Linked DNA regions of Homo sapiens: region 2 is linked to region 1. The links come from fine-mapping of genetic effects on gene expression. A gene starts in region 1. The other region holds a variant in brackets. All regions are shown on one strand. Distances are between the middles of the regions.

Region 1 (16,127 bases):
GGGGTTTCACCACGTTGGCCAGGATGGTCTCGATCTCTTCACCTTGTGATCCACCCGCCTCGGCCTCCCAAAGTGCTGGGATTACAGGCGTGAGCCACCATGCCTACTCCTGTTGTATATTTGAATCATACTGGATAAAAGGAATGCCAACCACCATAATAGGTTGCTTAAAAATAGTACTCACTAGGCTGGGGGCTGTGGCTCATGCCTGTAATCCCAGCACTTTGGGAGGCCGAGATGGCAGATCATGATGAGGTCAGGAGATCGAGACCATCCTGGCTAACATGGTGAGACCCAATCTCTACTAAAAATACAAGAAAAAAATGAGCTGGGCGTGGCGGTGTCTGCCTGTAGTCCCAGCTACTTGGGAGGCTGAGGCAGGAGAATGGCGTGAACCCGGGAGGCAGAGCTTGCGGTGAGCCGAGATTGCGCCACAACACCCCAGCCTGGGCAACAGAGCAAGACTCTGGTCTCAAAAACAAAAAAAAGTAGTACTCACTAAATCATCAACGGTTTCCAGAGGATATTATAGCATTCAGATGACATTAGAATTGGTAATAAGTATTAGACAATCTCTGCTCACATACATACAATGGCTAATAAGTATGAGTGGTAAGCCCAACAAATAGAAGTAGTAAACTAAATGACAAGTATAGAACTAGGAGCACAAAAATGATCAAATTGCTATTGCTATTAATCGTGAAAACTCTATACAGGGGGGCCTTGAACTTAAACTAGGACAAATGATACACATCTTTCTGGTGAGGTGGTTAAACCTTTTTAAAAATAGCTTTATTGAGGGCCAGGCACAGTGGCTCACACCTGTAATCCCAGCACGTTGGGAGGCCGAGGTGGGCGGATCACCTGAGGTCAGGAGTTCGAGACCAGCCTGGCCAAAATGGCGAAACCCCATCTCTACCAAAAAATACAAAAATTAGCCAGGAATGGTGGCGCACACCTGTAGTCCCAGCTACTCGGGAGGCTGAGGCAGGAGAACCGCTTGAGTCCAGGAGGCAGAGGTTGCAGTGAGCCAAGATTGCACCACTGCACTCCAACCTGGGTGACAGAGCAAGACTCCATCATTAAATAAGAAAAAAAAAGCTTTATTGAAATATAATTCACATGCCATAAAATTCACTCATTTAAAGCCTAAAATTCACTGGTTTTTATGATGTACACAGAGTTGTGCAACAATCACCACATTTGCTTTAGAAAATTTTCATTACCTCTAAAAGGAACCCCATACCCTGTAACCAACACTCCCAAATTCCCCCAGTCCCCCACTCAACCCTAGGCAACCACTAATCTACTTTCTATCTCCAAATTGGTCTATTCTGGACATTTCACATAAATAGAATCATATATGATTTTTTTGTGACTGGCTTCTTTCACTTAGCATAATGTTTTCAAAGTTCATCATGTTCTAGGATATATCAGTATTTCACTCCTTTTTATTGCTGAATAATAGTCCCCTGTAGCAATATATCTCATGTTGTTTATCCATCCATCAGTTGATGAGCATTTGAGTCGTTTCCAATTTTGGGCTGTTACATATAGTGCTAAGATGAACATTCAACTGCAAGTTTTTGTGTAAACATATGTTTTCCTTTCTCTTTGAAGTAGCTTTGCTAGATAATGTGGTAACTCTTATGTTTGGCAATTTGTGGAACTACCAAACTGTTTTCTAAATGGTATGGATCATTTTATAGTCCCATCAACAATGAATGAGGGTGCCAATTTCTCCACACCCTTGACAATACTTGTTTCTGTCCTTTTGATTAAAGCTATCCTAGTGGGTGTGAAGTAGTATCTCACTGTGGTTGACTTCCATTTCTTTAAAAACTAATGATATTGTGCATCTTTTTTATGTGATTATTGGCCATTTGCATACATTCTTTGGAGAAATGCCTATTCATATACTTTGTCTATTTTTTAATTGGATTTTTTATTGAGTTGTATGAGTTTTTATATTACATATTCTAGATAAAAACACTTAACAGATATATGAATGGTAAATATTTTCTCTCATTTTGTGGGTTGTCTTTTGATAGTATCTTTTGAAACACAAAGGTTTTTAATTTTGTTAAACTCTAATTTGGCTATTTTTCTTTTATCATACTTAAAAAGCTTGGCTTAACCCAAGGTAATAAAGATTGACTTATATATGTTTCTAAAAATTGTAGTTTTAGCTCTTATGTTTAGGTGTACTGTCCAATTTCAATTTAGTTTTGTGTATGGTGTGAGGTAGAGTCTAACTTTATTCTTTTGCATGTGGATAACCAGTTGTTCCAGTATCATTTGTCAGAATTACCATTCATTCCCAATTGAATTGTCTTGGATCCTTGTTAAAAACCAATTTACTGTAAATGTGAAGGTTTATTTCCAGACTCTTTATTCTGTTGATCTACCTATGCCAGTACCACCACATCTTAATTAATGTAGCTTTGTAGTAAGTTCTGAAATCAGGAAGTGTGAGGCCTCCAATTTGTTCTTTTTAGATTGTTGGCTATTCTGGACTCCTTGAATTGCCATATGAATTTTAAGTATGCCCATTTTGCAAAAATGTCAGCTGGGATTTTGACAGGGATTGTATTAAGTCTGTAGATTTGGAGAGTACTGCAATCTTAATACTAAGTCTTCTAATCCATAAATACATACTATTTTTCAGTTTATATCTAATTTATTTCAATGTTTTATAATTTTTAAAGCACAAGTTTTGTTCTCTTTTATTAAATTTATTCCTAAGTATTTTATTCCTTTAAATGCTATTACAAATGGAATCACTGTCTTATTTACAGATTGCTCATTGCTGGTTTATAGAAACACAACCGATTTTAATATCTTGATCCTGTACACTGCAACTGTGCTGAACTGTTTATTTCGTTCATTTAGTTATTTAAATCTTCCTAAACGCTCTCTATAAAAGCTCTATATACAAGATCATGTCATTTACAAATAGAGTTTTACTTCTCCCTTTCTAATCTATATGCTCTTTTCTTTCTTTTTTTTTTTTTTTTTTTTTTTGGAGGGGGTGAAAGTCCCACTCTGTTGCCCGGGCTGAAGTGAAATGGCACGATCTCCGCTTATTGTAACCTCCGCCTCCCGAGTTCAAGCGATTCGCCTGTCTCAGCTTCCCAAATAGCTGGGATTACAGGCACCTGCCACCACACCAGGCAAATTTTTGTATTTTTAGTAGAGACAAGGTTTTACCAAGTTGGCCAGGCTGGTCTCGAACTGCTGACCTCAGGTGACCCACCCACCCTGGCCTCCCAAAGAGCTGGGATTACAGGCCTGAGCCACTGCACTGGGCTTATTTCCCTTTCTTGCCTAATTGCCCTGCTCTGGAACCTTCAGTACAAGATTGAATAAAAGTGGTGAGACTGGACATCCTTGTCTAATTCTTGATTGTAGAAGGAAACCATTGAGTCTTTAGGTATAATGTTAACCGTGGGGTTTTCATAGATTACCAATATAAGGTTGACGAGCTTCCCTTCTATTCCTGCTTTAGGTGGGTTTTCTTTTTAATCATGAAGGGGTGCCAATTTTATCAAACGCTTTTTTCATTGTCTATTGAAATAATCATTTGGTTTTCTTTACTTTTTTATTCACATATTACATTACTTTTTATGTGTCAAATCAATCTTGCATTACTGGGGTAAATCCCATTTGTACCTGGTATGTAATCCTTTACATATGTTGATGGATTTGATCTGAAAATATTTCCTCAGGATTTCTGTGTCTATAATCACAAGAGATGATGATCTGTAGTTTTCATTATGTCTGTCAGGATTTGGTATCAGGGTAATATTGGCCTTAGCCAAACTAAGCTTCGTAAGTGAAGGAGAAATAAAATCCTTTACAGACAAGCAAATGCTGAGAGATTTTGTCACCACCAGGCCTGCCTTACAAGAGCTCCTGAAGGAAACACTAAACATGGAAAGGAACAACCGGTACCAGCCACTGCAAAAACATGCCAAATGGTAAAGACCATTGATGCTGTGAAGAAACTGCAACAATTAATGGGCAAAATAACCAGCTAACATCATAAAGACAGGATCAAATTCACACATAACAATATTAGCCTTACATGTGAGTGGGCTAAATGCCCCAATTAAAAGACATTTTAATGTCTGGCAAATTCTTCTCAGCACCACATCGCACTTATTCCAAAGTTGACCACATAGCTGGAAGTAAAGCACTCCTTAGCAAATGTAAAACAACAGAAATCACAACAAACTGTCTCTCAGACCACAGTGCAATCAAATTATAACTCAGGATTAAGAAACTCACTCAAAACTGCACAACTACATGGAAACTGAACAACCTGCTCCTGAATGACTACTGGGTAAATAACGAAATGAAGGCAGAAATAAAGATGTTCTTTGAAACCAATGAGAACAAAGACACAACGCACCAGAATCTCTGGGACACATTTAAAGCAGTGTGTACAGGGAAATTTATAGCACTAAATGCCCACAAGAGAAAGCAGGAAAGATCTAAAATTGACACCCTAAAATCACAATTAAAAGAACTAGAGAAGCAAGAGCAAACAAATTCAAAAGCTAGCAGGAGGCAAGAAATAACTAAGATCAGAGCAGAACTGAAGGAAATAGAGACACAAAAATCCCTTCAAAAAATCAATGAATCTGAGAGCTGGTTTTTTGAAAAGATCAACAAAATTGATAGATTGTTAGTAAGACTAAAGAATCAAATAGATGCAATAAAAAAAGATAAAGGGGATATCACCAGCGATCCCACAGAAATACAAACTACCATCAGAGAATACCATAAACACCTCTACACAAATAAACTGGAAAATCTAGAAGAAATTGATAAATTCCTGGACACATATACCTTCCCAGGACTAAACCAGGAAGAAGTGGAATCTCTGAAGAAACCAATAACAGGCTCTGAAATTGAGGCAATAATTAATAGCCTACCAACAAAAAAAGTCCAGGTCCAGATGGATTCACAGCCAAATTCTACCAGGGGTACAAAGAGGAGCTGGTACCATTCCTTCTGAAACTATTCCAATCAATAGAAAAAGAGGGAATCCTCCCTAACTCATTTTATGAGGCCAGCATCATCCTGATACCAAAGCCTGGCAGACACACAACAAAAAAAGAGAATTTTAGACCAGTATCCCTGATGAACATCTATGCGAAAATCCTCAATAAAATACTGGCACACCGAATCCAGCAGCACATCAAAAAGCTTATCCACTATGATCAAGTCGGCCTCATCCCTGGGATGCAAGGCTGGTTCAATACAGGCAAATCAATAAATATAATCCATCACATAAACAGAGCCAATGACAAAAACCACATGATTATCTTAATAGATGCAGAAAAGGCCTTTGACAAAATCCAACAGCTCTTCATGCTAAAAACTCTTAATAAACTAGGTATTGATGGAACGTATCTCAAAATAATAAGAGCTATTTATGACAAACTCACAGCCAATATCATAGTGAATGGGCAAAAACTGGAAGCATTCCCTTTGAAAACCGGCACAAGACAGGGATGCCCTCTCTCACCACTCCTATTTAACACAGTGTTGGAAGTTCTGGCCAGAGCAATCAGACAGGAGACAGAAATAAAGGATATTCAATTAGGAAAAGAGGAAGTCAAATTGTCCCTGTTTGCAGATGACATGATTATACATTTAGAAAACCCCATCGTCCCAACCCAAAATCTCCTTAAGCTGATAAACAACTTAAGCAAAGTCTCAGGGTACAAAATCAATGTGCAAAAATCACAACTATCTGATTTTTTTTTTTTTTTTTTGAGACGGAGTTTCACTTTTGTTGCCCAGGCTGGAGTGCAATGGTGTGATCTTGGCTCACCACAACCTCCGCCTCCCAGATTCAAGTGATTCTCCTGCCTCAGCCTCCCTAGTAGCTGGGATTACAGGCATGTGCCACCACGCCCGGCTAATTTTTTTGCATTTTTAGTAGAGATTTCTCCCAACAGGGGTTTCTCCATGTTCGTCAGGCTGGTCTCAAACTCTCAACCTCAGGTGATCCGCCTGCCTCGGCCTCCCAAAGTGCTGGGATTACAGGCGTAAGCCACTGTGCCCAGCCTACAACCATCTTTGACAAACCTGACAAAAACAAGACGTAGGGAAATGATTCCCTATTTAATAAATGGTGCTGGGAAAACTGGCTAGCCATATGTAGAAAGCTGAAACTGGATCCCTTCCTTACACCTTATACAAAAATTAATTCAAGATGGATTAAAGACTTAAATGTTAGACCTGAAACCATAAAAACCCTAGAAGAAAACCTAGGCAATACCATTCAGGACATAGGCATGAGCACGGACTTCATGACTAAAACACCAAAAGCAATGGCAACAAAAGCCAAAATAGACAAATGGGATCTAATTAAACTAAAGAGCTTCTGCACAGCAAAAGAAACTACCATCAGAGTGAACAGGCAACCTACAGAATGGGAAAAAAATTTTGCAATCTACCCATCTGACAGAGGGCTAATATCCAGAATCTACAAAGAACTTAGACAAATTTTCAAGAAAAAAACAACCGCATCAAAAAGTGGGCAAAGGATATGAACAGACAGTTCTCAAAAGAAGATATTTATGCAGCCAACAGACACATGAAAAAACACTCATCATCACTGGTCATCAGAAAAATGCAAATCAAAACCACAGTGAGATACCATCTCACACCAGTTAGAATGGCGATCATTAGAAAGTTAGGAAACAACAGATGCTGGAGAGGATGTGTAGAAATAGGAACACTTTTACACTGTTGGTGGGACTGTAAATTAGTTCAACCGTTGTGGAAAACAGTGTGGCAATTCCTCAAGGATCTAGAACTAGAAATACCATTTGACCCAGCGATCCCATTACTGGGTATATACCCAAAGGATTATAAATCATGCCACTATAAAGACACATGCACACGTATGTTTACTGTGGCACAATTCACAACAGCAAAGACTTGGAACCAACCCAAATGTCCATCAGTGATAGAGTGGATTAAGAATATGTGGCACATATACACCATGGAATACTATGCAGCCATAAAAAAAGGATGAGTTCATGTCCTTTGCATGGACATGGATGAAGCTGGAAACCATCATTCTCAGCAAACTGTCACAAGGACAGAAAACCAAACACCGCCATGTTCTCACTCATAGATGGGAACTCAACAATGAGAACACTTGGACACAGGGAGGGGAACATCACACACTGGGGCCTGTCGTGGGGAGTGAGATGGGGGGAGGGATAGCATTAAGAGAAATACGCAATATAAATGACGAGTTAGTCGGTGCAGAAAACCAACATGGCACATGTATAGCTATGTACCAAACCTGCACGTTGTGCACATGTACCCTAGAACTTAAAAAAAAAAAAAAAATCAATTCCCAAAGCATTTCTCTCATTTCTTCTGAAAAGTTTCTAAAAACACAACTCCAAGGATGAAATGGAAGTTAAAGGTAAACAGGCAATAGCGCTGAATACGTAATTTCAGTAACTCAGAATTTTCTCCAACCTCTGCTCTAAAGAAGCTTAGCTACAGAAGAGCAGTTACCTTTGAAACATTTTCCCCAACATAAAGATATCCGGAATGTGAAGCTGCCATTAAAACTGTGACACAGATCTACATTTACTGATACATCAAAACATCCCTAAAGTTCGAAATACGAGCTACAGAATCACATCAACCGCCTAACTTGTCTGTAGCCTAAACTCTAGTCCGGAGTTCATCTGCAAGCGGAATTGGGAAGTATTTCAGAGCCAGCATCTCCTCGCGCCATCCAGGTACCTACACACTTGAGGCCACCGAGTCACCTGCGCAGCCGTTGCTCCTCCAAGACCAATCCGGGCTCCCCAGACCCACCGGCCTGAATCTGGAGGACAGCAGTCCGCGTGACAACAGCGACTCGGAGATCAGCACCCGTCGGGAAAGCCGCGTACCCGTTGAAGCTGGCGTCACGCCCAAAGGAACAAACGCCAGAGCGTGTGTCCTGGGCAAAGGCGGCCCGCCGCTCCGGTCCCCGGGCAGCAGCGGCCGGCGTCAGGCCGCAAGGCGAGGGGCGGGGACAGGACTCTACCCGGCAGCCCAGCGCCGAGCGCCCGCGCCACTCCGGCCTTGCGCCATTCCGGCCCCACGACGGCCGGCGGCGGCAGCGCGGCTGGGCTCAGCGGCTCGCAGCCCGGGCGCCCCCCCTGCCGGCCGCTCGCTAGCTCAGCCTCACCCGCAGTCTTGTCCGCTGGCTCGCTCGCCCGCCTACAGGTCGACAGGGCCCAACGACCCGGCGAGCAACTTCACGGAAGGCACTGGCCGACAACGCTCCGCTGCCGCCGCGCCCCGCCCCTTTGTGACACCACCTACCAATCGCTGGACGGCGCTTTCGCTGCCCTCCAATCAGCGCGGGCGGGGGCAGGCCTGGCCCCCGGACGTGGGCGGTTGCCGGGGCGCCAGGGCCCTGGGGCCTTCTTGGCATTCGCTGGAGGTTGTGAGTTACGAGGCCCGGATGTTGATCTTTTATTACTAGCAACACTGGACCCCTGACTCGTGCCCACGCGGGCGTCTGGAGGGCAGCCGCATGGCCTGCTGGGAACGGCGGGGTTGAAGCCGGAGCCGCCCTCCGTGAGACCCACCGGGGATCCTCTTCCAGGCGCCTGATTTGCTGGAGATAGGCGATACAGGCAGACGCTGTCCAGTCGGTGGCCTCTCCAGAGTGAGGGGCGCTCCTGGTGCGTTTGGGCCGGCCTGTCCTAACAAATCTGCTTTAGGCTTCACCGTCCCCTAATGTTTCTGGCCTCAATTGCCTCATCTGGAAAATGGGGGCATTACCGTGCCTGCTTGAAGACAAAGGCGAAAACAGATAACTTTCTGTAGTCCTCATACAATTTACTGAGAACTGTAGGCCAGGCAATGGAGTAGGCACCCTGGGCTCAAATCCCAGCGTTGGGTAAGCCCAGCCACACCTCCTGCTCCAGTTTCCAAGCTGCTGAGCTGCGGTGTAAACAGTAACTGGCTTCAAGCCAACACCTGCCTTTCAACCTAACATGGGAGCCCACTGCCTCGTTCCGTTCCCCCTACCGATTTTCCAACTCCGTGAACCTCCTTCACTAAGTGGGTTACTCAGCTGACAAAGAATGTCATCTCACTCCCACTGCGGGTTCACTCATCCTCGACTTCTGGCTCAGAGGAGCCAGTCTAATATGAAACTAAACATCTAATCTGTGTCTCCTGTCCTCTCTCATTCTTCTGAGACCCTACCCACCAACTTATCTCCACAGTTCAACGAACTATTGAGCATACACTGGGGGAGTATGGTGAGGCACTGGGCATTGATTCACCAGTCTCGCCGTTGGTTCCTTCTGAAACTCCACATATGCTTAATGCTAAATAGATTGGAGACCTTTGAGGACAGAGCTATGATGGTAATCATCTTTGCATTCCTGAGCCTAGAATAGGGCCTGTGATGGAGACTTACTGAGTAAAAACCTTAGCGTTTCTCACCCTTGCCTGCCCACTTCATTCACACTGGAGAATTGACAGCATGGACCGTGGAGTCAGGCAGGTGTGTTTAAAGCCTTGCCTCCCAATACCAGAAGCTCCATTACCTGGCCAAGTCATTCATTCTTTACAACATCATCATCATTATCATCTGCCATTCTTCAAGTGCCAGATAGTTGATAAGGGTCTTTACGTATTCTCTCCCCATCACAATCCTGCAAAGTTGGTAGTGAAATCCCTCGTCTACAAAGGAGTAAACAAAAGCCAATTAAAGTAGAACAATTTACCTATAATCAAACAGCTCTATGTCGGAAAGCCATATTTAAACTAGGACACAATACAAAAATCCAACCTTGTTCCATTATTCCACATTGCTTCCAGATTTTAGCTTTATCTGTAAAATTAGTGTTACTACATTACCTATCTGATAGACCATGGAGACTGAATAAAATAGCATTAAAAGTTGTTACCATAGGAACTTTTTTTTAACGTAAGTTCTCTCTCCCTTTCAAGCCTCTCAAAATAGCAGCTTGCGTATTTTCTAAACCTGTTGTCTCCTGAATCCCCTGAAACCAATCCTACTGATTGATGAGTAGATTTAGTTGTTCCAAAAGAAAATCATCGTATTTAACAAATGCTGACTCTGACCGACATTGGGTACTACAGCAAGAAACTATGTGCACAAATAACCTACGGACAGAAGGAAGATGCATAAAATGAATAGGGGAAAGGAGTGGCCAACTAGCAAGTGCCCTCATCTGTCATCACGTCACTCTCACAGCAGACTTGGGCAAATGGTTGACCTGTGGGAGCTGAACAAAATCTTTGACTCTGGGTATGAGTAATTCCCTGTCTGATCTTACAGTGCCCAAGGAAGAAGTCAGTAGCTCCAGGATCGCTGAGACCAACCTGGGCGGCCTACAAGACTGCACCATGGTGACAGGCTGAATAGTCAGCAGCAAGACGACAGAGCACCAAAAAACACAGACTAGAATGGGGTCAGCCATCCAGGTGGCTAGTGGCTACTGCCTTTGACGATGCAGATAAAGAAAATTTTCATTCCTGCAGAGTTCTATGGGGCAGTGCTGCTCTAGAGGCTGACATTTCTATCCTCAGCACTTCCCCCGGCTATTACCTAGGTTCATTCTGCTGCTTCCACAAGGCAAGAATGGAACAGAATGCCTTAGAGCAATGGTCAGCGAACTGTTTATGTAAAGGGGCAGGGCCAGGCGCAGTGGCTCACGCCTGTTATCCCCGCACTTTGGGAGGCCGAGGCAGGTGGATCACGAGGTCAGGAGTTCAAGACCAACCTGGCCAACATGGTGAAACCCCAACTCTACTAAAAATACAAAAATTAGCTGGGTGTGATGGCAGGCGCCTGTAATCCCAGCTACTCGGGAGGCTGAGGCAGGAGCATCGCTTCAACCCAGGAAATAGAGGTTGCAGTGAGCCAAGATCACATGACTGCACTCCAGCCTGGGTGACAGAGCAAGACTCCGTCTCAAAAAAATAAATAAAAGGGGCAGATAGAAAACATCTGAGGCTCTGTGAGCCATCCGGTCTCGTCATAATTACTCAACTCTTACATTGGAGGTAGGGTGAAAGCAACAATAGAAAGTAAGTAAATCAATGAATGTGGTTGTGTTCCAATAAAACTTTATTAACAAGATCAGACAGTGGGGGGGGGGGGGTAGCATAGTTTGCCAAACGAAAATCCAATAAAAATTTATTAAAGATTTAAATGTGGCCAAGCGTGGTGGCTCATGACTGTAATCCCAGCACTTTGGGAAGCGGAGGCGGGTGGATCACAAGGTCAGGAGGTCGAGAACATCCTGGCCAACATGGCAAAACCCTGTCTCTACTAAAAGCACAAAAATTAGCTGGGCGTGGTAGCGCGTGCCTATAGTCCCAGCTACTCAGGAGGCTAAGGCAGGAGAATCACTTGAACCCGGGAGGCGAAGGCTGCAGTGAGTCGAGATCGCACCACTGCACTCCAGCCTGGGCAACAGAGCGAGACTCTGTCTCCAAAAAAAAAAAAATCAAAAAACAACATTTAAGTGTAAGACCTGAAATGAGAAAACTTTTCTTTTAGGTTTTTGTCTAGAAGTTTCTAGGTATTGATCTTGACAATAATTTACAGAATATGTCACAAAAGTGGAGACATGAAAAGCCAAACTAAACATGGGACAATGCCAAATTGAAAACCTTCACAGCAAAGAAACCAATGAACAAATTAAAAAGCTTTTTAACAATTATCCAAAATACCTAAAGAACTTGTATTAATAAATAGGAAAAAAAACTGAAACAAAACAGAAAAGCATCAAAAAGCTTAAAAATAAGCAGATTTGGCCGGGCACGGTGGCTCATGCCTGTAATCCCAGCACTTTAGGAGGCCGAGGTGGACGGATAACCTGAGGTCGGGAGTTCGAGACCAGCCTGACCAACATGGAGAAACCCTATCTCTACTAAAAATACAAAATTAGCCGGGCATGGTGGCACATACCTGTAATCCCAGCTACTAGGGAGGCTGAGGCAGAAGAATCTCTTGAGCCCGGGAGGCGGAGGTTGTGGTGAGCCAAGATCATGCCACCAGTCTGGGCAACAAGAGCTAAACTCCGTCTCAAAAAAAAAAAAAAAAAAACATGTTCAGCAAGGTTGAAGCATCAAAGGTTAATAGCCAGAATCATTTATCAATTGTATTTCTACACATCTGCAAGACACAATCTGAAAATGAAATTAGAAAAACAACTTCATTGGGCAACAAGAGCAAAACTTCATCTCAAAAAAAAAGAAAAAAAAAATAGTAATCTACAATGTCATTTCCTGTTCAAGCTTGACTTCTACCTTTACTTTCTGATATGGTTTTGCCATGTCCCCCCACCCACATCTCATCATGAATTATAATCCCCATAATCCTGATGTGTCGAGGGAGGGGCCTAGGGGGAGGTGATTGGATCACGGGGGCAGTTATCCTCATGCTGTTCTTGTGATATTCAGTAAGTCCTCATGAGATCTTATAGGGTTTTGTTTTGTTTTGTTTTTTGGATGGAGTCTTGCTCTGTCACCCAGACTGCAGTACCATGGCGCGATCTTGGCTCACTGCAGCCTCTGCCTCCTGGGTTCCAGTGATTCTCCTGCCTCAGCCTCCTGAGTAGCTGGGATTACGGGCATGCGCCACCACACCCAGCTAATTTTTGTATTTTTAGTAGAGACGGGATTTCACTAAGTTAGCTAGGCTGGTCTCGAACTCCTGACCTCAGTTGATCCACCTGCTTTGGCCTCCCAAAGTACCAGGGTTACAAGTGTGAGCCACCAAGCCCAGCTGAGATCTGATGGTTTTACACATGTTTGACAGTTGCTCCTTCACATGTTCCCACTCTCTGTGCGGCCACCATGTAAGTCGGACCTGGTTCCCCTTCTGCCATGATTGTAAGTTTCCTGAAGCCTACCCAGCCATGCGAAACTGTGAATCAATTAAACCTGTTTCCTTTATAAATTATCCAACCTCAGGTATTTCTTTATATCAGTGTGAAACAGACTAATGTGCTTTCCGATAATCATGCTTCAGGAATTGGGGAATTCAGACTACCTGGGATCAAATTGTGGCCCCAACCTTAGCAGCCATGTGACCTTGGGGAGGTTACTTACCTTCTCCATCTCAACTCCTTCAGTAAAATCTGTAAAATGACATTGTTTCTGAGGGTTAAATGAGCATAGCACAGTGTCAGGCACACACTACTTGCCAGATGTCGAGTATTCATCTTTATTGAAATAGGACTGTGGTAAGCCACTTTATGGCTCTCGATTTTGTATGAGAAAATCATGCTTAGTGCCTTGTTAGTAAAAGAAAGAAAACCTGAAAGTCCCTGCCACGGAAGGAAGAAATAGCGGGGAGAAAAGGGAGTTGGTAAGTTTCAGCATTTCAGAGCTTGGAGAGGGACAAGTTAGGTTTCCATTTTATGGAGAAGGAGGTGGAGGCAGGATGGGTCCTAAGGTGTCATTCAAAACACACAGCCATAACTCTTTATTGAGAGTAGCGCTAGGGCCCCAGGGATTGCTGTGGTCAAGTTGCGGACAAAAATGACCACTCGTTGGAAGACAGGAGAGGAGTGTTTAGTTACAAAAGCAGTCAACAATTCAGGTGTATCTATATTCAGACAGCAAATAAAAGTTGTTCAACTTGGTTGCTAATGGGACCCACTCTACTGAGGCTTTGTATAGAACTCATAGAGGAAGATGGCTTCAAGGAATGAACTACCCTGTGCTTTTCTTAGGACTAAAATCTCAGGAAGCTGGTGATGAATGAAAACCTTAGTCCCACTGGCACTGCACGAGGGGCCAGGAGAGCAGCAGCATCATAAGCCGCAGGGTGGGGCAGCCAAGGCAGGGGCATTCTGAGCTGTTGGGGAGGGGTGGCAGGCAGGGTGGGGCACTGTGAGCTGTCGGGGAGGGCATTGTGAAGTGTGGGGTGGGGCATTGTGTGCCACATGCCTGGGCTCCCACCTGGGGCCAGTGGGCTTCAGTCTGTAGGTGACTACAGAAGGAGGAGGAGCTCCGTCTGTTCTCTCTTCAGGCAGTTGTTGTGTCTCTCAGCACTTGTTGGGTTCACAACCTATTAAATAAGCCGGCTGGTCTTCACCCTCCCAGACAAGTCAACTCAGGGGAGGCAGCAGGGTGCGGGCCTTGGCCAGGGCCAGGGCCAGGGCCAGGGCCAGGGCTGGTGCCCGGGGCCGCGCTGTGAGGTGGGCAGGCGAGGAGCGGGAAGACCATCTCTGCAAGTGCAGCATAGCCTCGGCCTAGGACAGCGGGAGTGCGTGGCCAAAGCTGTGAGCAGAGGCACAGGTGGTGGCAGACAGTAGAGGCACCCCATGGGGAACATACTGACCTGTCGTGTGCACCCTAGCGTCAGCCTCGAGTTTGACCAGCAACAGGGGTCGGTGTGTCCCTCTGAATCTGAGATCTATGAGGCAGTAGCTGGGGACAGGATGGCAGGAGCGCCCATGGCTGCTGCTGTGCAGCCTGCTGAGGTGACTGTTGAAGTTGGTGAGGACCTCCACATGCACCACGTTCGTGACCGGGAGATGCCTGAAGGTAAGGAGGTGATAGGTGCCATCTACCCTCGGTTTGCCTCTGGCTGCTGCTGTCCCCAAGGTTCCCTTTGAGGCATCCCCCACTTTGAGCTCCTTTCTGCTTGTAGCCAGCTTTTCCGGGGGCTGGCCAGGAACAAAAGCTGGCTCTGCCTTGAATTCCCACCCCTTAGTCTTTCCCCACCAAGTCCAGTCAGTTTCTTTTCGCCTCCCCTCCCAATCGCCCAGTTCTTGCTCTCTCACCTCATTCTCCCAGGCTGGCATGGGACCATTTATTTATGGCTCTTGTCGAATAAGCAGCAGTTGAATAAATGAGTTGATAAATTTTTATAAATGATTACATCTTTTTTCTTTTCTCCCTCTATACATATAGCTTTGGAGTTTAACCTTTCTGCCAATCCAGAGGCAAGCACAATATTCCAGAGGAACTCTCAAACAGATGGTGAGACAACAGTGTCTGTAGCTCTGTTTATTATCCTGTGGGACTTTGTTTAGGCTTCTTTGAGCTATTCTCTTCCTTTTCTCAATAAAAACTCAAATATCCCAACTTTTCAGTACCCATCTTATTTTTTCTTTGTACCTATCCAGATGGTACCTAAGTGAAGGAACCAGGTAAGTGCCTAATTGTTTCCTTTGTTAAAGTAGTCAAATCTCAGGACAGTTCCTATTCAAATATTTGGGGATTTCTTATTTAAAATCAGAATGGAGTTTGCCACGGGAGAGGCTATATGGTATTCTTAATGGGCTGCTTTAAGTCACCTTGATAGAAGCTGCTTAGTTTCTTCTAACTGTAATTTGAACACAGAAGGAAAAAGAAAAAAGGAGAGTGCTTAAAATAATTGTGAAAGGTGTGAAATGTCACAGCCGGGGCTGCAGAAAAATGGTTGTGTGTGTGTGTTTGGGGTTTCTCAAAGGAGTTTACCTATGAGGCTCTGATTACTTTAAAATTCTTACTTTAACAGAAAATGTGTCTCCAGATTTATTCTGGTGACTTAACAGACTTTATTTACCTCCTTGTTCTAAAAGAGAGGTGGGGATTGGTTCATGGTCAAAACTTTCAAAAGACATGAAACGTCAATGTAGACTTTCAATGTGTAATATAAAGATTGCAGGTTAAAATGTCAGACCTTCCCTGTAAGAGTGTTTGTTGCCATGGCTCCCCCTTTGTCCCTTCCCCTCCTGACAATAGCATCTTGTTCAAAGATAAGAAAGTTACAGTTTTGGCTGGGCTTGGTGGCTCACGCCTGTAATCCCAGCACTTTGGGAGGCCGTGGCAGGCGGATCACCTGAGGTCAGGAGTTCCAGACCAGCCTGGCCAACATGGTGAAACGCTGTCTCTACTAAAAAAAAAATACAAAAATTAGCTGGGCGTAGTGGCACATGACTGTAGTTCCAGCTACTCACAAGGCTGAGGCAGGAGAATTGCTTGGACCTGGGAGGTGGAGGTTGCAGTGAGCAGAGATCACGCCAATGCACTCCAGCCTGGGTGACAGAGCGAGACTCCGTCTCACAAAAAAAAAAAAGGAAAGAAAGTTGGAGTTTTTTAGT
Region 2 (16,127 bases), 35 kb before region 1:
AGCCAGGCATGGTGGCTCACAACTATAATCCCAGCACTTTGGGAGGCCAAGGTGGGAAGATTGCTTGAGTTCAGGAGTTCAAGACCAGCCTAGAAAACATGAGAAAAACCCATCTCTATCAATAATACAAAAAAATTAGCTGGGCATGGTGGCAGGAGCCCGTAGTCCCAGCTACTTGGGAGGCTGAGGTGGGAGGATCGCTTGAGCTCAGGAGGCAGAGGTTGCAGTGAGTCAAGATCATGCCACTACACCCCAGCCTGGATGATAGAGCAAGACCCCATGTCAAAAAATAAAAATAAATTAATTTTTAAAATAACAAATAAAAAAGTGTGTCACTGATTTAAAAAACCTGCATCTCACTACACCAAAGGAAGAGGATGCTCTTGAAATAAGAAACTTACTTCCCTACACAAAATCCTCACTTCTGTGTATTAATATATAACTGTTAATACTCATCTAAGTAAATAAAATTATAGAAAATACAATTAGAAAATAAATAGAAAAAGGCAGACCAAATCCATGTAAAGCTGCTATAAAAATAAAACAGAAAATGAGAATCAGAACATTTTAGCTAATGAAAATCCTCCCTAAAACAATGAAACAAAAGAAAACTCCATCACAATACCCCAACCTAAATTAAGTATCTTTTAGTATTTGCAGATATTTTTTAAAATCTCATCAAATCATAAATGCAAAAACTCAAGGCAGAATAGATAAAAGTAATAGGAGGATACGAAATGAGAGCTGAGCAAACCCAGAAATACTCTGCAGAAAACAAAATCATCTCAGAAATGAAGACTAAATTACAAGGTGCCCACAGGAGACTAAAATTCTACTTAATATTTAATAAAGAATACTGAGAAAAGGTATAGGCCGGGTGCGGTGGCTCACACCTGTAATCCCAGCACTTTGGGAGGCCGAGGCGGATCACGAGGTCAGGAGATCGAGACCATCCTGGCTAAGAGGGTGAAATCCTGTCTCTACTAAAAATATAAAAAAATTAGCCGGGCGTGGTGGCAGGCACCTGTAGTCCCAGCTCAGGAGGCTGAGGCAGGAGAATTGGCATGAACCCGGAAGACAAAGCTTGCAGCGAGCCAAGATCGCACCACTGCACTCCAGCCTGGGCGACACAGCAAGACTCCATCTCAAAAACAAAAATACTGAGGAAAGGTATGAAAACAGCCAAAAGAATAAAAATAAAATAAAGAATCTAAAAGGATAAGAGAGAAGGTGGTTGTATATTAGACAAAGAAGTTCTAACAGGGCAGAGGGGGTATCTCATGCCGCTGAGGCAGGAAGGTCACTTGAGCCCAGGAGTTCGAGGCTGCAGTGAGCTCAGGCTATGGCACTCCAGCCTGGGTGACACTGCAAGACCCTGTCTTTAAAAAAAAAAAAAAAGAAAGAAAGAAAGAAAAGACCACGACGATGTTCTAACTTATGTATAAAATAAGCTCCAAAGGCCGGGCGCGGTGGCTCACGTCTGTAATCCTAGCACTTTGGAAGGCCGAGGCGGGCGGATCACCAGGTCAGGAGATCGAGACCATCCTGGCTAACACGGTGAAACCCTGTCTCTACTAAAAATACAAAAAATTAGCTGGGTGTGGTGACGGGCGCCTGTAGTCCAGCTACTCCGGAGGCAGAGGCGGGAGAATGGCGTGAACCTGGGAGGCGGAGCTTGCAGTGCGCCGAGATCATGCCACTGCACTCCAGCCTGGGCAACACAGCAAGACTCCGCCCCCCAAAAAAAAAAAATTCCAAAAAAGAAAACAAACAAAAAAACAAATAAAGTACTAAAAAAAAAAAACATATAAATTCTAAGAAATAATCCTGAAATAAAAGACTTGAATCTTTATGTTAAAAAGACTCAAGTGTATAGTGAAAATTGACCCTGAAGAGTTAATTCCAAGATACATCCTAATAAAACCACTACATTTAAAAGAAAAAAAAATCCTCATTTTCTCCAGACAAAAAAACCAAATCATTTACAGAGAAAAGAAAGATTGGTAATTAGATTTCTCAATGGCAATATAAAAAGCAAAGCATAGCAGAGCAACATTTTAGACAAACTCAAGGGAAAAGATGTGAACCAAACATTTTATATCCAGGCAAGCCATCATGTAAGGATTAAGGCTAATGTTTCTAGCATTAAAAAAAGATGAATATTTAAGGTTATGGATATCCCAATTACACTGATCTGATGTTTACAAATTATATTCATGTATTAAATTATCACATGTACCCTGAAAATATATCTATTACGTATCAATGAAAATAGGAAAATACAAAAATAGAAGAAAAACCTACAATTAATATCATACATAATGGTAAAAACAAATAAAAATGTTAAGTCTAAAGAAAAGGGTTTGAACATCGAAAAATTCAAGAATTACTGTACCTACAAGCCTTTCTTGAGGACTTCAGATGAGCTTCTTCTAACCAAAATGTATGGGGAAACCTACAGCAAAAAGACTGATCATAAGAATGGAATACAATTGGCCGGGCATGGTGGCTCATGCCTGTAATCCCAGCACTTTGGGAGGCCAAGGTGGGTGGATCACAAGGTCAGGAGTTCGAGACCAGCCTGGCCAACATGGTGAAACCCCGTCTCTAGTAAAGATACAAAAAAAAAATTAGCCGGGTGTGGTGGCACACGCCTGTAATCCTAGCTACTCAGAAGACTGAGGCAGGAGAATTGCTTGAACCCAGGAGGCACAGGTTGCAGTGAGCCAAGATCGTGCCATTGCACTCCAGCCTGGGTGACAGGGCAAGACTCCATCTCAAAATAAATAAGTGAATAAATAAAAAGGATGGAATAAAATTAAAACTAAAATAAGAGTGAGTAGAAAGAAAAATGATTTGTAAAGGCTATGTTTTCTTTAAAAAAGTAGAAAAAAATTTTTAATGAGAGGATGAAGAGAGAAGAGAAAAAAATAAGTTCACTGATTTTCACTTAGTAATTAGGAGTCAAAGGATATTTAAAGCTGGCAAATAAAAGAGGAGAAGGTTAAATAAGGAAAAGGCAGATCAAGAACATGATAAATAGTATTAATGTAAAGTGAATCAATAAAACAAAATGCAAAAGCCTTCTGAAATACCAAAAAATACACCCTTACACATTCATATATACAGATACACACAAAAGAAAGCATAGAGAAGGAAACTGTAAGTATAACAAAATAAGACATTTAAGACCAAATATGAAGTCATATCAATAAATATAAACGTGATTAAGTTACCTGTTTTAAAATTTCAAGCTGGCTCACAAAGCAAAAACCAACTCTATAGTGTATATAAAGGAAATATGTAAAACAAAGTAACTTAAAAGTTAATAAATAGAGACATGGGAAAAGGTATACCAAGCAAATGAAACCAAGAAGATACCAGTAGGTATGGGCCTGATATCAGGCAAGGAAAATTCAAGGGGAAAGTCAGTGAATGTGATAGAGATGAAACATTTCACTACTTTTGTAACTAGCAACACAGTGAAAATATGTTATTAATATTTATGTACCAAATTACACAACTACCACTTTCTTACAGCAAAAAGTATGAGAAATGAAAAGAGAAATACACAGAAACCTATGAATAATAGACCTTCATCTATTACCATTCTCATTCTAAGACAGATCAAGTTGACAAAAAAAAAAAAAAACTTTAATAAGGTCTATCTTATAAATATCTAGCAAACTTTTACCTTTTTGATAGAGAATAAACTGTCTTCTGAGGTATATATTCATGAAAAGTGCTATTAGATCCCAAAGAATAAAATGCTATAAAGTAGAAATACAAACAATATTCTCTGAGTTCCATGCAATAAAACTAGAAATTAAAAACAATGAAAAATCAAGCCCGGCATGGTGCTGCACACATAGTCCCAGCTACGTGGGAGGCTGAAATGAGAAGATCCCTTGGTCCCAGGAGTTCAGTAACATAGTGAGACTCCCACCTCTAAAAACAAGAAAAGAAAAGAAAAAGAAAAACCAAAAAGCCTCTGCCACCAGAACATTTTCAAAATATATTAAAATACTCTTGGACTAATGAGGAAATACCAACTAAAATTGCAAATTTTCTTTAAAAAAAAAAACGAAAAAGAAACTACTACAAATTAACATTATGTGCCTTCTGATGTGTTGCACTGAGAAGAATAAATCATCTGTGTAGTATTCCTACCAAAAATGTTCAAATTCCATCTAATCATAATGAAACAGCCAAATCTCCAAATTGAAGAATATTTTACAAAACAACTGATCTATATTCTTCAAAAATATTTTACATGCATGTCCAAATAAGGCTTAGAAACAGTTTTGTATAAAAGGAGACTATGAAAACATTACAACGAAATGCAATGCATCATTCTTGATTGGATCCCAGATTAAAAACAATATAAAATGCTATTAAGCACATTATTAAGACCTGGGAAATATGAATATAGATGACATAATGTGTATCAATCATAAATGAGTATGGTAACTGTATCATAATCATGTAAAAGGTGGCCCTTATTCTTAGGAGATACATAATAAATAAAGTACTTAGGGGAAGTGTCATGATATCTAACTTGCACATAGATCAGCTAAAGAAAAATCCAAACAGAAAGCAAATGTGGGAAAATATTAATTGATGAATCTAGTCTTATAACATTTCTAAATAATTAAACATTTCTCAGCCAGGCGCGGTGGCTCATGCCTGTAATCCCAGCACCTTGGGAGGCCGAGGCAGGCAGATCACGGGGTCAAGAGATCAAGACCATTCTGGCCAACATGGTGAAACCCCATCTCTATTAAAAATACAAAAATTAGTTGGGCATGGTGGCTCATGCCTGTAGTCCTAGCTACTGCTACTCGGGAAGCTGAGGGAGGAGAATCGCTTGAACCCAGGAGGTGGAGGTTGCAGTGAGCCGAGACCACACCACTGCACTCCAGCCTGGGCAACAGCAAGACTCCATCTCAAAAAAAAAAAAAAAGAATTAAACATTTCTCAAAATTAAAAAGGTAAAATAAGTTTTCAGACAAATGCTGAGAGAATTATCATCAGGAACCCTAAATGAAAAGAAGTACTAGTACTAGAAGTCCTAGCTGGAGAAATCAGACAAGAGAAAGAAATAAAGGGCATACAAATTTGAAAGAAGGAAGTCAAATTATCCTTGATTGCAGATAATATGATCTTGTATTTGGAAAAACAGAAAGACTGCACCAAAAAACGATTAGAACTGATAAACACATTCAGTAAAGTTGCGGGATACAAAATCAACATACAAAACCCAGTAGCATTTCTATATACCAACAATAATCTAAAAAAATCAAGAAAGTAATCTCATTTACAATAGCTACAAATAAAGTAAAATAAAATACCTAGGAATAAACTTATCTAAAAAAGTGAAAGATCTCTATAATGAAAGCTATAAAACATTGGACGACACAAAAATATGAAAAAATATTCCATGTTCATGAGTTGGAAGAATTAATATTGTTAAAATGTCCATACTGCCCAACGCAATCTACAAATTCAACATAATCTCTATCAAAATACCAATGACATTTTTCACAGAAACAGAAAAAATAATCCTAAAATTTACATGGAACCACAAAAGACACAGAATAGTCAAAGCCATCTAAGCAAAAAAAAAAAAAAAAAACAAAAAAAAAACAAACAAAAAAAAACTGGAAGAATCACAATTATGTGACTTTAAATTATACTACAGAGCTACAGTAACCAAAACAGCACAGTACTGACATGAACATAGATGCACAACCAATGGAAAAGAACAGAGAACCCAGAAACAAGTCCACAGACCCACAGTGAACTTATTTTTGATAAAGATGCCAAGAACATACACTGGGGAAAGGATAGTCTCTTCAATAAATAATGTTGGGAAAACTGGATCCACATGCAGAAGAATGAAATTAGACCCCTTATCTTTTACCATATACAAAAATCAAATCTAAATGAACTAAAGACTTAACTCTAAGATCTGAAACTATGAAACTACTAAAAGAAAACATTGAAAGTAGGGTCTCAAAGACATATTTGTATACTTATGTTCATAGCACCATTATTCACAATAGCCAAAAGATGGGGGCAATCCAAGTATACATTGAGGAATGAATGGATTAAAAAAGTGTGGTATATAGCCATACAATGAAATATTATCCAGCCTTAAAAAGGAAGGAAATTCTGACACGTTATGACAATTTTACAAGACAAAAAACTTCTGGAGATTGGTTGCACAACACTGTGTTATACACTTAACATTACTGAACTGTTTGTACACTTAAGATGGTTAAGATAATTTTATGACATATGTATTTTACCACAAAAATAAAATTTAAAAAATTTTAATGGTAGAATCTAGATATTAGATAAATAAGTGTTCATGGTAAAATTCTTTCAACCTTACTGTATATTGGAAAAGAAAAATATAGATCAAAATTTCTCTCATGAATGAAATCGTAATGCAAAAATCCTAAAGAAAATATTAATAATTTAAATCTAAAGAAATGAAAAATACATCACAACCAAGAATGGTTCATTCTAACAATGCAAGACTATTTTATATTTTTAAAAAATCAGTTCATCACAATATCAGAATATTTTTATTCAGTGAAAAAATACTTACTTCTCTTTGGACTTCTTGACTATCAGTTACTTAGAAGTGTGTTATTTTCAAATATCAGAAAGCTTTCCACATATCTATTATTAATTTCTAATTTTATTCCATTGTAATCAGAGAGCATTTTTGTATTATTTGGAATCTTTTATAATTTATTTGAAACTGGTCTAGGCGCAGTGACTCATACCTGTAATCCCAGCACTTTGGGAGGCCAAGACAGGTGGATTGCTTGAGGTCAGGAGTTCAAGACCAACCTGACCAACATGGTGAAACCCCGTCTCTACTAAAAATACAAAAAATTAGCCAGGCATGGTGGCATGAGCCTGTCGTCCCAGCTACTCAGGAGGCTGAGGTAAGACAATCGCTTAAACCTGGGAGGTGGAGATTGTAGTGAGCCAAGATTGTGCCACTGAACTTCAGTTTGAGGGACAGAGCAAGATTCTGTCTCAAAAAAAAAAAAAGAAAATTGAACCTGTTTTATGGCACACAATATGGTTTACCCTGGTAAATGTTCTACATGCACTTAAAAAGAAATGTGTACTCTGCTGTTTTGGGTAGAGCATACTGTAAATGTCAGTTGGGTCAAGTAGGTTGATTAGTGTTGTTCAAGTCTCCTAAATCCTTCACTGATTTTCTATCTGTTCCATCGATTTTTGAGAGTGGGATGTAGAAATCTTTCAACAAAAGTATTTGTTTATTTCTTTGTAGTTTTTGCTTCATGTATTTTGAAGTTCTATTATTAAGTGCATAAACATTTAGGACTGTGAAGAAAGGATGTTTTTTCTTAATAGAGCTAAGTCAATTGTTCCCCATCAGAAAAAAAAAAAAAAAAGATCTTTACCCCACTTTACGTTATATCAGAAAAATTTCAGCTGGGCGCGGTGGCTCGCTCCTGTAATCCCAACACTTTGGGAGGCCAAGGTGGGAGGACTACCTGAGGTCAGGAGTTTGAGACCAGCCTGGCCAACATGGCAAAACCCCATCTCTACTAAAAATACAAAAAATAGCCGGGCATGGTGGCACATGCCTGTAGTCCCAGCTACTCAGGAGGCTGAGGCACGAGAATCACTTGAACCAAGGAGGTGGAGGTTGCAGTGGGCCAATATTGTGCCACTGCAGTCCACCCTGGAGACACAGCAAGACTCCGTCTCAAAAAAAAAAAAAAAAAAAATTTCAGCTGGACTAAACCTAAGTGAGAGAAAAACAATCATAAAGCTTTAAAGACCTGTGGTAGGAAAATATTTCATCAAAAGGTTATCAAAAATGATAATCATAAAAGTAAGCTGGGTGCAGTGACTCATGCCTGTAATCCCAGCACTTTGGGAGGCCGAGGCAGGCAGATGACAAGGTCAGAAGTTCAAGACCAGCCTGACCAACAAGGTGAAACCCCGTCTCTACTAAAAATACAAAAATTAGCCGGGCGTGGAGATGCGCACCCGTAATCCCAGCTATTTGGGAGGCTGGGGCAGAAGAATTGCTTGAACCCAGGAGGTGGAGGTTGCAGTGAGCAGAGATCACACCACTGCACTCCAGCCTGGGCAACAGGGCGAGACTCTGTCTCAAAAACAAAACAAAACAAAACAAAACAAAACAAAACTGATAAATTAGAATACAATTAAAAACATTCACCCAAAGAATAAGAAAGTAAAAGAACAAGCCACCATAGAGTGTTAGAAGTATCTGCAACCCATATATCTGACAAAGGACTTGTACCCATAGTATATAAAGATGCCTAGAAATCAGTAAGCAAAAGGCAGAGAACTCAATTTAAAAATAAGCAAAAGACTTGAACAGGCACTTCACATAAAAAACGTATCTTAATGGTCAATAATCATATGAAAAGTCAATATTATTCCTCATTAGAGAAATATAAAAGAAAACCATTTACACAGTCACCAGAATGGTTAAAATTAAAAGGACTGACAATATCAAGTGTTGACAAGAATGTGGCATAAACTAGAACTCTCACGTTGCTGGGAAGAATGTAAATTGGTTCAAATGCTTGGCAAAATTGGCCGGGCGCGGTGGCTCATGTCTGTAATCCCAGCACTTTGGGAGGTCGAGGCAGTCAGATCATGAGGTCAGGAGATCGAGACCAACTTGGCTAATACGGTGAAACCCCGTCTCTACTAAAAATACAAAAAAAAAAAAAAAAATTAGCCCGGCGTAGTGGCGGGCGCCTGTGGTCTCAGCTACTCAGGAGGCTGAGGCAGGACAATGGCGTGAACCCGGGAGGCAGAGCTTGCAGTGAGCCGAGATAGCGCCTGGGTGACAGAGCAAGACTCTGTCTCAAAAAAGAAAAAAAACAAAAAACAAAAAAACAAAAAAACCAAAAAATGCTTGGCAAAATTGTCTGGCATAATACTAAAGTTAAAC[G/A]TGCATCTTCCCTCTGACTCCGAAAGTCCATTGCTAGGTATATGCTCCAAAGAAACAAGTGCTATGTCCACCAAAGAATGTATGAGAATATTCAAAGGAAGTTTATTGATAAAAGCCAAAAGCTAGAGACAACTCAAATGTCCATCAAAAGGAAAAGAAAGAAGCAAATTGAGGTAAATCAATCACACAGTACAATAGTACACAACAATAAAAAAGAATTAACTGATACATACAACCACATGGATAAATCAAACAAATACTTTTAACAAAAGAAACCAGACCATACTCTCTATGATTCCATTTATATAAATTTCAGGAATAGGAAAAACGTATTTACGGTAATAGATGTAAGAACAGTCGTTATTTCTGAGAGTAGGAACAGGTACGTATTAACTGGGAAATATTATGAGGAAACATTCTGGAGTGAAAGGTCCTATTTTAATTTGGGTTGTGTCTACATGAGTGTATATAAATGTAAAAATTCGTCAAGTAGTATATTAAAGATTTTTGAATTTTATTATACATGAAAAGGAAGGGAGCCATTAATAGAGTAAAAAGGAAAGCAATAAAGTGGTAATATGAAACAAAGGACTTTTATCTAGAATATATATAAAACTCCAAAAAAAATCTGTAACAAAAAACATACAACCCAATAGAAAAATGGAAAAATATAGGTGTTTTATTAAAAAGGGTATCCAAATGCCCAATAAACATATGAAAGGTGCTCAACCTTCCAGGTCTCATGAGAGAAATGCAATTAAAACCACAATGTGATGCCACCACAAACAAAGTAGGATTACAAAAATTACAAAGGACCATGCCAAATACTGGTAAGAATATGGGAAAATGGCAACTCTCATTCACTGTTGTAAAGAATGTAAATTGGTTCAATCACTTTGGAAAAAACTGGCACTATCTACTAAATAGTAGATATCTTTATCCATAATAAATAAATATTAACATATTTTAAAAAGTAATTATTGCCAGATTAAGATTAAGCTCTCTTTTTTTATCCTTCTTAGACCCAGAATGATCTTTAAAATGATGTTAAGTGCAGTATAATCCCTTCAGGTGTGCTTCTAATCCAAAAAATCCAATTTATCCCTTTTAGAAGTTTAATAAATAACTGAGGCCAGAAACCTGAAATGAATAATACTTTATAATTTTTTCACAATGACCAACAGACCTCATTGCTGAGTGCTCTGCAGGGGTAAGCTAGAGATAAGCCTGGTCAAATGCCAACAGCTTCACCTTTTTGCTGAGATTCATGTTCTTCATCTTAGCCTTCAGCAGCTTCATCTTATTCATAGTTATTGAATTTTCAATTATCTGTTGCCCAGAAGAAGAAGGCTCAGTTTCTTCATCCTCATCTGTATCTGAATTATACATAGAACCACCACTGCAAAGAAAACAATAACTACTTGAAATTTTTCTGATACCTGCTCAGTGACTAAAAATGCTCTATATGAAACAGCAATCTATAGAAGTTACTAATGATAAAACACTACATCCATTTTGTCAATGTTAATGTCAGGAAAATATATTTCAAAGAATGTACTTCTTAAAAGAAAAAATGAAATGGGAATAAATATTATGATCTAGGATTACTGAAAATCTAGTATAGCTGAGCTTCTCTGAATTCAGTATATCATAAATGAAGATGTTTTGACACCTGCCATATCATTCCCAAAGAGGCAAAATCCATTTCCATGAGAATGTCTGATTTCATTTTATCAGCCAAGGCTGATAATTGTGCAACCCAGACAACAGGCTGATGAGATTTCCATGAATCAGAATTTTTTTAAATTTGGCACGGGAGAGAAGTACAGATTTTTAGTCATCCTGAGGAGATTCTCACTAAAAAAAAAAAAAAAAAAAGAATTCATACACAGGTGTCATCAGAACATTTTCTATTCTTAAGGAGCAAAAAACATTTTTTTTTTCTTGAGACAGTCTCACTCTTGTCGCCAGGCTGGAGTGCAATGGCACAATCTCGGCTCACTGCAACCTCTGCCTCCCGGGTTCAAGCGATTCTCCTGCCTCAGCCTCCCAAGTAGCTGGGACTACAGGTGTGTGCCACCATGCCCAGATAATTTTTTGTATTTTTAGTAGAGACAGGGTTTCACTGTGTTAGCCAGGACAGTCTCAATCTCCTGACCTCGTGATCCGCCTACCTCGGCCTCCCAAAGTGCTGGGATTGTAGGTGTGAGCCACCGCGCCCAGCCAATACATTTTTTTAAGTAGAGATAACTTCAAATTTTTCTAAGTGTGTTTGAAAATGTAAAAACCTAGACTAGCATAGATTTTAACAAGAAAAAACACATCCAGTCAAGTCATGATACAAGCTATTAAACAGGTTAAACATTTCAATTACTGATCAACCACAGCGACGTTATTCATATTTCAATGTAATTAATATTTGGAGCCCTTCCTCTTTGATTGTATAATATAATGATGTATCACACGATCCTCATATTTATACTTACATGTTTGTTTTGCCCCTTATTCTCCCACATGTAAGCAAGTTGAAAGCAGACATTAGACTTTATCTTCTGAGTCTGCACCAGGCACAGCGCTTGGCACATAGCCAATAAATGTTTGATGAACTGAACACAAAGATTTTGAAATTTAATTTATTTTTTCTATAATGGGAAAATTAGAATGGCAAGGATTTGATAAAACACAAGCTTGGCACATTTGGAAAACAATTAAGACTTTAAATAAAGCAAAATAAGAATACATATTAGTTTCTATGCAGATTTACTTATAGGAAAACTAGGTTATCTACACTATGGAAGTATGAGGAAAATTTCCCGTTTTATATGGTTGTAAGAAATGGAAACAATTTAGGACAGCCTTAATGGGGTATATTCCTTAATGTTTCTGAAGCACATATTGTCACACAAGGCCAAAAAAGAGAGCAGACAGCCCCATTCCTAAATTTTATATGGTGCAACATGAAATGTTCTGAAACTGTGGGTTAATTACACGCACTATACGCATGGGTAGCATCTGAAGGAAGAATGTAGGACTGGTCTCCACAACCAATTCAGTCTGTGGTGCTTGACTTGTGACAGCCACAGTTACCTACTACAGCATGGCTACCACAGTATGATAACTGACACAAGTACAACACTGAAGTAATAATATTGCCTGCCATTTACTGAATGCCTGCTCTGCCAGGCACTTCCCACACATTATTCCTAATTCTCACAAAACTACATAAGGTAGATATTATAGCTGATTTTATTAATGAAGAAACTGCAGGTGAGAGAGGTTAAGTGATTTGGCTCAAGATCAGAAAGCTATAGACAGCAGACCTAAGATTCAAATCCCCTATGTGTCTGGTTCCTAAGCTGATTCTTCCTACTACTACTCATTGCTTCCCCAGGCACCAAATGACAGGACTTACTGCATCATGCTTGTGCACCCAGATGAGTGCCAGAACTTCTACTGTGTGAAGGCTTTTGTCTCAAGGCCAACTATACAATACCTGAAGAAGGGTGCATGAAGATTTTCGTCATGTCACCCTGTGGAGTTAGAAGGAATAACTCAAGTATACACTATTCTCAGTTACCTTGCAATATTTTAACCTTAAATACTTCTGAGTTACTCTGTGGCATTTTAAGTATCTTTACTGAATACTGAAAGAAGTTTCTGATTCAACATTACTGTCATGAAAAGACCTATTCTCTCATGGAATAGATACATATATACACACACATACATACACACATATATATATATATAAAAGAACAATCAGCTGGGCGTGATGGCTCACGCCTGTAATCCCAGCACTTTGGGAGGCCGAGGCGGGTGGATCACGAGGTCAGGAGATCGAGACCATCCTGGCTAACATGGTGAAACCCCATCTCTACTAAAAATACAAAAAATTCGCCGGGCGTGGTGGCGGGTGCCTGTAGTCCCAGCTACTCAGGAGGCTGAGGCAGGAGAATGGCGTGAACCCGGGAGGCAGAGCTTGCAAGTGAGCCGAGATCACACCAGTGCACTCCAGCCTGGGCGACAGAGTGAGACTCCATCTCAAAAAAAAAAAAAAAAAGAACAATCATGATAAATCACTGGACTCATTTTAGAGTATAAAAACACTTTTAAATTCACCTTTTTTTTTCAAAGAACCACATTATTTTGTTTTCTCTCATGAAGTATAGATTCATGAGATGAGTTAGAATCCAATCACAAATTTTTTTCAGATGAAAAAATGTAACTAGGTTAACATACTAATTTATAAATTTAATCCGAAATGACTTTCTTTATATTTAAATATAATATAACATTTCCTTGAATTTCTAAATTTTTTTTAGTGCTATATGTAATTTCTCCAAATCTTTTTTTTTTTTTTTTTTTTTTTTGAGACAGAGTTTCACTCTTGTTGCCCAGGCTGGAGTGCAATGGTGCAATCTCGGCTCACCGCAACCTCCACCTCCCGGGTTCAAGCGCCCTTTCTCCTGCCTCAGCCTCCCTAGTAGCTGGGATTACAGGCATGCACCATCACGCCCGGCTAATTTTGCATTTTTAGTAGAGATGCGGTTTCTCCATGTTGGTCAGACTGGTCTCAAACTCCTGACCTCAGGTGATCCGCCTGCCTCTGCCTCCCAAAGTGCTGGGATTACAGGCATGAGCCACCACGCCCGGCCTCAAATCTTTTGATTTAATGATATGATTAAAGGATACAAGATAGGCAAATGTAATATTATTCAAGCATGAAATCTGCACATCGCAAAGCCAAGACCTCATTTAACTTTCACAGTTTACCATTAAGTCTTACAATGTCTCCTTATCTATCTTTCTGCTTAAAAAATCCCAGGCCGGGCACAGTGGCTCATGCCTGTAATCCCAGCACTTTGGGAGGCCGAGGTGGGCGGATCACCAGGACGGGAGATCAAGACCATCCTGGCTAACACGGTGAAACCCCGTCTCTGCTAAAAATACAAAAAATTAGCTGGGCATGGTGGCGGGCGCCTGTAGTCCCAGCTACTTGGGAGGCTGAGGCAAGAGAATCGCTTGAATCTGGGAGGCAGAGGTTGCAGTGAGCCAAGATCGTGCCACTGCACTCCAGCCTGGGTGACAGAGCAAGACTCCATCTCAAAAAAAAAAAAAAAAAAAAAAATACCAGTAAGGTGGCATGATCCACTAAAAAGATTTGAGACTAAAAAAAGACTGATGCTGCATTTTGTATCAGAATGAAACAAATTAACACTCAATTCTCCCTCTTTCTTTTTAGAGTAGAAGCCAGCAAACCATGGTCATGGGTCAAATCTGCCCCACCACCTATTTCTATTTCTGTGTGGCCCATGAGCTAAGAATGGTTTATGAACTTTAATTAGTTGAAAAAACTCAAAATAATGGTATTTCATAACAAATGAAAATTAAATAAAATTCAAATTTGTGTCCATAAATAAAGTTTTATTGGAACAAAGCCATATTCACCCAATCATGTATTACAAATGGCTGCTTTTGCCTACAATGGCAGAGTTGAGTAGCTATGACAGACTTTATGTGGCTCTCTCGTTGCTCTACACTGTGATATGGAGAACTACAAATCACAGTAACATAGTCATAATTCAACAGTATTTTGACTGCCATGTATATTGCTATTCTGTGACTTTTTTTATTACTAGGGTATACCCAACCTTGTCAAACAAGAAAAGTAGACTTCAAATGTTGCCATTTTAAGGTACCGTAGAGTGGATTATTTGTTAGCAATTAGATAGCAAAGCATGATGCTTATAATGCAGTGACACTATAGCTATGCTAAAGGAAAACAGCATAAATAGACATTACCAGGTTAGGCATTCATCACAATATTCCCAACTTTCAGGAAAGCAACAGTCAGAAAAACTAGAAAATTTACAGTAGAATATCTCATCACAGCAGAATTTCTTTACACAAATAAAAAATGAAAATGAAGCTATAAAACCAAAGAAGTTTCTGAATGTTTATATCTGCTAGCCAAGCAAGGAAAGCTACTCATCAATAGTGAATTAATTCACTATTGATCACAGCAGTTGAGGAAGTATGTCCTGAGAAAATAAAGTTGTTTAAAGATTACTTTTCCAGCAGGGACAATTTCTCAAAAAGTTGATAGAATTGGAAGTAATGTCAACAGCTGATTTAAAAAGCTGATTGTTTTTTGATGAGCTGACATATATTACCCATATTGCTCTGTGTTATTGTTTATTGAGGGCGTCAATACCAAGTTTGAAGTGACTGAAGAGTTGGCCCCTATGAATAGTCTGCATGAAGCTACTACAGGTGAGAATATTTTCAAATAAATTGCTAAATACTAATTTAGTACAACTTTAAGTGAACTCTGCTATAACTGATGGGGTGATGTGTGAAACAGAAAAAAACTTATTGGACAAATTTATAGTTAGTGAACATGTAAGGTCTTTTTTTTTTTTTTTTTGTCTTTTTGAGAGGGGGTCTCACTCTGTCACCCAGGCTGGAGTGCAGTGGTGTGATCTCGGCTCACTGCAACCTCCACCTCTTGGGCTCAAGCAATCCTCCCACCACAGCCTCCGAAGTAGCTGGGACTACAGGTGTGCACCACCAGGCCCAGCTAATTTTTTTCCAGATGGAGTTTCACTGTGTTGCCCGGACTTGTCTCAAACTCCCGGACTCAAGAGATTCGCCCACCTTCCAAAAGTGCTGGGATTACAGGTGTGAGCCACCATGCCCTTTAAACATGTAAGGTCTTTAAAGTCTACAGTTATTCATTGTATTATTCATCAGCAGGTATTTCATGGTAAATATCTGAGTCTATCCTGTGTTATTAAACCAGCAGTGTTAATGGTAAACTTCAATTGTTTCATGGACTTATCCATCATCAGTTTGGTGGCTTACTGGTAATAAAGTTTTATTATGTTTTTTTTAGCTCAGGAACTCTGAATGAGAAGAACTGGCCTTAACTACTATTACAAACACTTTTTAAATTTTTAAATTGCCTTTGGAAATTAATTTTTACTGTGGACTTCATAATGTTTCATAATGAATTTAACCTAAAATTACAAAATAAAACAATATTTATATGTGAAACATATACTGCAATAATGTCATGTTAACAACAACTAGTGTTTGAATTACACGTAACAGCAAGCTGCAATCATTCCCATGCTTTCAA

What was found.
Region 2: its variant is fine-mapped to the expression of ZFAND4 in whole blood (INTERVAL, PIP above 0.99).

The regions. Positions count from the first base shown.
Region 1 is chr10:45,664,458-45,680,584 of GRCh38, forward strand. It overlaps ZFAND4 (zinc finger AN1-type containing 4), which reads right to left and starts at 8,315. Exons shown (of 10, transcript NM_174890.4): 1 at 7,793-8,315. It also overlaps the pseudogene AGAP10P. RefSeq lists a silencer at 7,898-8,617.
Region 2 is chr10:45,629,579-45,645,705 of GRCh38, forward strand. ZFAND4 (zinc finger AN1-type containing 4) reads right to left here. Exons shown (of 10, transcript NM_174890.4): 6 at 10,238-10,385. Among named protein-coding and RNA genes, the nearest start is that of ZFAND4, 35 kb to the right of the region's middle. The variant G/A (reference allele first, on the strand shown) is at 8,987.